Homo sapiens: one gene and its partner. The protein of the gene in region 2 interacts with the protein of the main gene of each other region in a pairwise test. Each region holds a gene or a part of one and is shown on either strand. Other genes may lie near its edges. The genes, in order: ITSN1 and PDZD8.

Region 1 (3,826 bases), on a different chromosome or scaffold from region 2:
TAGTCCCAGCTACTTGGGAGGCTGAGGCAGGAGAATGGCGTGAACCCGGGAGGCGGAGCTTGCAGTGAGCCGAGATTGCGCCACTGCACTCCAGCCTGGGCGACAGAGCGAGACTCCGTCTCAAAAAAAAAAAAAAAAAAAAAAAAAGAGAATATTATAAACAACTTTATACAAGTAAATTTAATAATTTAGATAATATAAACAAGTTCATTGACAGATAATCAAAACAGATTCAAGGAGAAGAAGAAAATCAGAATAGCCCTATATCTGCATAATGAATTTTATAATTAAGTCTTCAAGAAAGCTCCAGGCCCAGAGGCCTTCACTGGTGAATGCCACCAAAATTTAAAGAAGAAATGCTATTTCAACACAAACACTTTTAGAAAATAGAGGAGGAAGGAATATTTTCCAACTCATTTTCTGAGGCCAGCATTACCCTGATATCAAAACTAGACAAGAATATTAGAAGAACACTAAAAACCAATATCTCTGTTGAATTGAATTCAACAGATTTAAAAAGATCCTTAATAAAATAATGGGAAATGGAATGTAGTGAAATATTTTAATAAAGGGTAATATACCATGACCAAGAGTGGTTTATCCCAAGAATGGAAGGCTGATTTAACATTCAAATGGCAACCATGTACTTCATCATATTAACAAAATAAGAAAGAAAAAACACATACTTATCTCAATAGATGCGGGGAAAAAACATATGATCTATTTCAACACCCATTCATCATAAAAACCCTCAGCAAAAGGAGAAGTCCATCAACCTGATAAAAGGTGTTTACAAGAACCCTGGTTAACACTATACTCTATGGTGAGAGAGCTTTCCTTCATCGAGAGGGAACAAGGCTCTTCCCACTTCTATCCAATATAGTATGGGAGGTTCTGGTCAACAAAGTAAGACACACAAAGGAAGTTAGTTAAGCAATCACAGATATAAGGTCAATATACAAAAATAAATTCTATTTCCATATACTGGCACCAAACAACTGGAAACTAAAATAAAAATATGCAATATACAATAGCATCAAAAGCCACAAAATACTTAGGGATAAACTTTACAAAGTATCTACAAGACTTGGACACTGCAAACTACAAAACATTGCTGAGAGAAATTTATAACTACCAAAATAGAGATTTATGCCATAGATTTACTATTGCTGAGATGTCAAATCTTCCCAAATTGATTTATAAATTCAATGGAATTCCAACAAAATTCCAAGCATTTTTGTAAAAACTGATAAGCTGATTCTAAAATGTACATGGAAATGTTAAGGACCTGGAATAACCAAAAACAATTCTAAAAAGAACAATAACAGAGAATTCGTATCACTTGACTTCAAAAATTAGGTATCAACAGGGTGAGGTACTGGTAAAGGACAGACAGATCAAAAGAACAGAATAGAGTCCAGAATAGACCATTACAAATATGTTCAACTGATTTTCAACAAGCTACCAAGGTAACTCAATGGGAAAAAAGCCAGTGTTTTTAATAAATGGTGCTATAACAACTGTGTATCAGTATGTAAAAATATAAACCTCAACCTTTACCTTATACTATCTGCAAAAATCAACTTGAAATAGCTCATAGACCTAAACATATAAGATACAACTATGAAACTTAAAATTTTAAGTTTTTTTCAATTTATAAAAACTTGTAAAAATTATTTTTTTAAGCCCCAAAAACTTCTAGAAGAAAATAAAATATTTGCAGTCATGGGGTAGTCAAAGATTTCTCAGATAGAACATAAAAAGCATGAACACCAAAAGAAAAAAAACGGTAAACTGAACTTCATCAAAATTTAAAACTTCTGCCCTTTAAAAAATACCACTAACAAAAATTAAACCCAAGCCAGATTGGGAGAAAATATTTGCAAAACACGTATCTGACAAAGGACTTGTTAAGAATATAAAAAGAACTTTTACAAGTAAATAGTAAGACAAACAGCCCAATAAAAAATGGGCAAAAGATTTGTTCAGACACTTCAACGAAGATGCACAGTAAAAAATACTCGCCAATAAACATGTAAGATGATTCCCAACATCATTAGCCTTCAGGGAAATACAAATTAAATGATCAGAATGTAAAATGGTACAAACTCTTTGCAGTTTGTCAGTTCTCTTTCTTTCCTTTCTCTTTTCTCTCTCTTTTTTTTTTTTTTTTTGAACAGGGTCTCATTCTGTGGCCCAGGCAGTCAGTGGCTCAATCATAGCTCACTGCAGCCTCGATATCGTGGGCTCAAGTGGTCTTCCTGCCTCAGGCAGGTACTACAGGTGAACGCCCCCATGCCAGCTAATTTTTAAGTTTTTTTTTTTTTTTTTTAGAGATGGGGTCTTGCTATGTTTCCCAGGCTGGTCTCAAACTCCTGAGCTCAAGCAATCCTCTTACCTTGCCCTCTCAAAGTATTGGGTTTACAGGTGTGACCCACTGTGCCCAGCCTGACAGTTTCTTATGGGGTTAAATATACACTTACATGACACAGTAGTTCCATTCCTAAAAGTTTACCCAAGAGAAATAAACCATTTCCACATAAAGACTTGTACATAAATGCTCACTGCAGTTTTATTCATAAAAGTTCCACACTGGAAAGAACCTGAATATCAACCAGTAGGTGAATGGACACATAAGGAAACACTACTCAGTGATGAAAAGAAACAAAAGAGTCATTCACTCAGTAACATGGACACATCTCAAAAACATCATGCTGAGAAAAAGCCTAACATAAAGGAATCACAGGCAAATATGATCATCCACAGGCAATATTTACATGAATTTGATGCCCCTGTAGTTCAGCACTTGATACCAAACCAGGTGATATTATAACAACTTTGGATAGGCTTTAAAATGAAGACAGAACTACTAAAAGTGCTCTGTATGTCTCCAACTATTTAGTATACATATAGCTCTCATATGACCCCCTAAAATACTTAAGTGTACTTATTTATTGTAATTACCACAGTAAAGCCAAAGTCCTGTTGGTGGACTACAGGTTCTGTGTGATCCAGCTCCCACCTGCTCTACCCAGTAGTCTCCTTGCTGTAACTGGCATCTCAGAGTCCTGCTACGACCTCAGGACTTTGGCACTATTTCCCTGCCTAGATCTTGCTCTGCCAGATACCCACATGGCTTAGCCTGTCATTAATTTCAAGTCTCTGCTCAAATGTCACCATCCAGAAAGACCTGTCTTGGCTACCTTAGTTAAAATCACAACATTTCCTATCCCTAGGACTCTCTATTCCCTTCCCTACTCACTCTCCATAGCACTTTTCATCTTCTAATACAGTACACACTTTATTTTGTTAGTCTCTGTTCCTCCTGCAAACAGAGGGTAAGCTCCCAGAAGACAGAGTGTCTGTCCCTGCTGTAGCCTCAGAAACTGCAAAAGCACCTGGCCCGAAGCAGTGCTCAGTAAATATTTGCTGAGTTTGTCTCCTTGACAGGCTACTTTTCACACAAGGACCCTGTCTACTTCATTTTTGCTTCCCAGTGCCTAGTACAAGACAGTTGCTTAATGTTTACTGAATAAGTAAGTAAATGAAATGAATTAGAGAAAAGGATGCCAGTTTAATATAATAGCTTTTAAGAGGCATATTTCCTCACCTGTAATTGTTGCTGTAGATGGGTGATTTCGGCAATTCTCAACTCTCTAGATTTGTTTGTGCTCTCAATTTCTTGCCTTTGGGTGGTCAATCGACATCTGATATCTTGAAGTTTCCCTTCTAGTTGATGCTTTTTATCATTCTTGAACAAATGAAAGATAATAAAAATTATTACTGTTTTTAATGGTTCCATCTTAGTATATTTTCAAAGTATAAC
Region 2 (3,826 bases):
GAAAAAAACAAACAAACAAAAAAACAAAAAAAGAGACATACAAAAGCTTTTCTGTTATGTTCCAAGGTTTTTCTTTTTTTTAAAACAATGAATGTGTATTGTATCTGCCCTTCATCTTAATACATATTATTATTATTATTTGAGATGGAGTTTCGCTCTTGTTGCCCAGGCTGGAGTGCAATGGTATGATCTCAGCTCACTGCAACCTCTGCCTCCCAGGTTCAAGCAATTCTCCTGCCTCAGCCTCCTGAGTAGCTGGGATTACAGGCGCCTGCCACCATGCCCAGCTAATTTTCATATTTTCAGTAGAGATGGGTTTCACCATGTTGGCCAGGCTGGTCTCGAACTCCTGACCTCAGGTGATCCACCCGCCTCGGCCTCCCAAAGTGCTGGGATTACAGGCATGAGCCACTGAGCCCGGCCTGTTGTTATTGTAATTAACAAATGTTAGATGTCAAGGGATGACTTTTGCTTTTTCACTCTGTATACATTTATATCGCTTAGGTTAATTAATTTATTTTTGATAATAGGTATTTACTACTTGTGTAATTGAAACACAACCCCCAAAAAAGACCGAAAAAATTAATTTTATCCTGTAGCTAAAACCAAAATATTAAATGATATTAATATAATGAATGATGTCTATTTTATGCCTCCCTAAGTGTTTATGCATAAGCATCATCATTTGGGAGGAGTCTGTGAGAAATGAAGAATCTTGGGCCTCACTACAGGTCTCCTGATTCAGAATGCACATTTTAACATCAGGTCTGGGTGACTGGCATACATGGGAAAGTCTGAGAAGCACTGCTTATGCCATGATCAGAGATTCCCATGTGAAAATATTGACTTAATTGGGCTCCCAGATATGCAACTAAATAATTTTCATTATTTTATTGTCAAGGTGGATTTGAATCAAAGGCAGAGTTTCTTTGACATGTAACCAAGGACAACTGCACCTTGATTTGGGAACTGTTCTAACTTATTTATTGTCTAAGCTGTGAAAGAAAATATCACATTGCCCTTTTCAGATCAACTGTGACCAACCATATGTTCAAGAAATCTCTCAACAAGCCTAGAATAGATGGGACAGGTACTACAAAGGTTGAAAAGGCTTGGACTTTCCCCTCACTGCTGTGCACAGTGAGTCCTACTGCTTAGACATTTATATACAAGCAAATAACCTGCTATCTTCAGAGAGTTTTTACTGTTAACAATCCAAGTGATAGGAAGGCATGTAAGTGACACATTTTTCCACCAGTGATTTGGGCTGAATTCTGAGCAACAACATACTAACAAATGGCTGGCCATTTAGATGACACAGGATCACAGGACAGTTCAGATGTGCCCTCCTGGAAAAGGAATGTTGGTTCTTCTGCTCATCATCTAGTGCTAAGTGATGGGGGCAGTAGTGCTAATACTACCAATTTTAGGTTCAGAGTAGCAATGGTGGTAGTCGTACAGAAAGATAACCTGTTTATTTGCCCTTACTTTCACATTCAAGAAAAAATAAATAGAGTAGTAGAAGGTGGGAAGGGAAGGATTAGAGTGGTTATATAAAAGTGGTCTAAACAAAGTATTTTAAAGATTTATACACTAGAACTAAAATGGCATGTATGTTTTAAATGTATTTTGAAGGCCTCCTTTGAATTTTTATTTATAATAAAGTTTATTACTTTATTTCCATTATAAAAGTGACATATGCATATTATAGAAATAAGGAAAAAGGAAGAAAGGAAAAACCTCACACCTACTTTGTAGTTTATCTGTAAAGGTAAAGTATAATGCATATTAGCATAATTACCTCCAATGGCGATAAGTCGATCTCCCCGCTGAAGATCTGCAATTGCAGCAGGCGAGTTTGGAGCCACAGTTTCAATGATGACGTGCCCAGCATACCCATCAGTTGACTGGACAAGACGAAGTGTAAGTCCAACACTTTGTAAATTTCCTTTTATTAATTCAACCTTTGATAAAGGGGAAAAAAATGAAAACTGATTCAATGGATTCCTAGTAATAGAGGAAAAAAACAGTAACAGACTGTTATGTGCAGAGAGCACCATGGCTGATGCTGACTTTTCTATCATGGCAAATAAAGGAAGGAGAAAATCTTTACTGTAACAATATAAATTAACTATCCTTAGGCTACACATTTAAATCATCAAAAAAATTAAACACTTTATCTTCAATGTGTTTTATTATTACTCCTTGCTCCATGCTCATTGTAGAAAATTGGGAAATAAACAGAAAGGCAAAATAAAAAGAAAACCATTCCTAATTATACAATCTAGAACTATTCTATATATTTTCTAATATATATTTAACACAAAATTGAGATTTGTCTCAATAATACTGAGACATAGTAGTCAATACAATTATAATCATGAATATAATTCTGAATCTTGCTTTTTTCAAATATAATGAAAATGATCTATGTCATTCATAATATGTGCTTTGGAAACTCCATTTTGTATGGTGTATCCTTTTTTTTTTTTTTTTTTTTTTTGAGACAGGGTCTCACTCTGTCACCTAGGCTGGAATGCAGTGGCACAATCCTGGCTCACTGCAACCTCCACCTCCCAGGCGCAAGTGATTCTCTCACCTCAGCCTCCCAAGCAGCTGGGACTACAGGCGTGCACCACTACGCCTGGCAAGTTTTTGTATTTTTTTGTGTAGAGATCGGGTTTCACCACTGTTGCCCAGGCTGGTCTCAAACTTCTGGGCTCAAGTGATCCGCCCACCTCAGCCTCCCAAAGTGCTAGGATTAAAGGCGTGAGCCATCCCACCCGGCCAGTGTATTCTTCAAGTTTCTTTTTTGGGAATAGGCAAAGGAAAAGAGTTTACATTTATACTTTATTAAGAGTTATCGGCCGGGCACAGTGGTTCACGCCTGTAATCCCAGCACTTGGGAGGCCGAGGTGGGCGGATCAGGAGGTCAGGAGATTAAGACAATCCTGGCTAACACGGTGAAACCCCGTCTCTACTAAAAATACAAAAAATTAGCCAGGCGTGGTGGCAGTGCCTGTAGTCCCAGCTACTCGGGAGCCTGAGGCAGGAGAATGGCATGAACCCGGGAGGCAGAGGTTGAAGTGAGCTGAGATCACACCACTGCACTCCAGCCCGGGCAACAAAGCGAGACTCCACCTCAGAAAAAAAAAAAGAGTTATCATGTGGTGGGGATGATGGGGATGGTGGTGCACACCTGTAATCGCAGCTACTAAGGAGGGCTGAGGTGGGAGGACCATTTGAGCCCAGGAGTTCAAGACCAACCTGGGCAACATGGTGAGACCCCATCTTTATTTAAAAAAAAAAAGTTACATTGTTAATGAGATGTCCTATTCTAACCCATCAAGATCATTTTGTTTTCTAAATAAACCTGCCATCCAATTTTCAGGAATGTGGATACTAGATTAACATCATCTGTGAATTAACAACAACATCATCATGCTATGTGTCCTCATTCAAACAACTGATTTAAAAAAAAAAAACAGGCAGAGTGCTACATCCCAGCTGTTGACAAGGATTCAATTAGTGTTTATGGCGCTCAATTACAAATCAGTCTAATTGTATTATTCTCCAGTCCACATTTCTTAAGTCCTATTCTTCAAGGATATCTCATGAGGGACTTTGCCAAATACCCTAATATCCAAATATATCACTGGCTGCACTGCTTTAATATATAAATCCCACTTGGACAGAAATTCAATTTTCCTACCTAATGATATTCGCTGGTAAAAGAACCCTCACTGGAAGTTGCTCTTTAATTTGGGTGTTAACAAATTTTGTAAAGTTATTTTAAGGAAAATCTTAATCATACTGTGCTCAAGAA

The links.
Region 1: the proteins of PDZD8 (region 2) and ITSN1 interact in a two-hybrid assay, tested with the Homo sapiens proteins (one large-scale study listed by BioGRID and IntAct).

What each region holds. Positions count from the first base shown.
Region 1 is NC_000021.9:33,774,893-33,778,718, reverse strand, and holds part of ITSN1 (intersectin-1), read right to left. Parts: intron 3,752-3,826; coding exon 3,611-3,751; intron 1-3,610. UniProt on the Homo sapiens protein: Adapter protein that provides a link between the endocytic membrane traffic and the actin assembly machinery. Acts as a guanine nucleotide exchange factor (GEF) for CDC42, and thereby stimulates actin nucleation mediated by WASL and the ARP2/3 complex.
Region 2 is NC_000010.11:117,288,385-117,292,210, forward strand, and holds part of PDZD8 (PDZ domain-containing protein 8), read right to left. Parts: intron 1,965-3,826; coding exon 1,802-1,964; intron 1-1,801. UniProt on the Homo sapiens protein: Molecular tethering protein that connects endoplasmic reticulum and mitochondria membranes. PDZD8-dependent endoplasmic reticulum-mitochondria membrane tethering is essential for endoplasmic reticulum-mitochondria Ca(2+) transfer.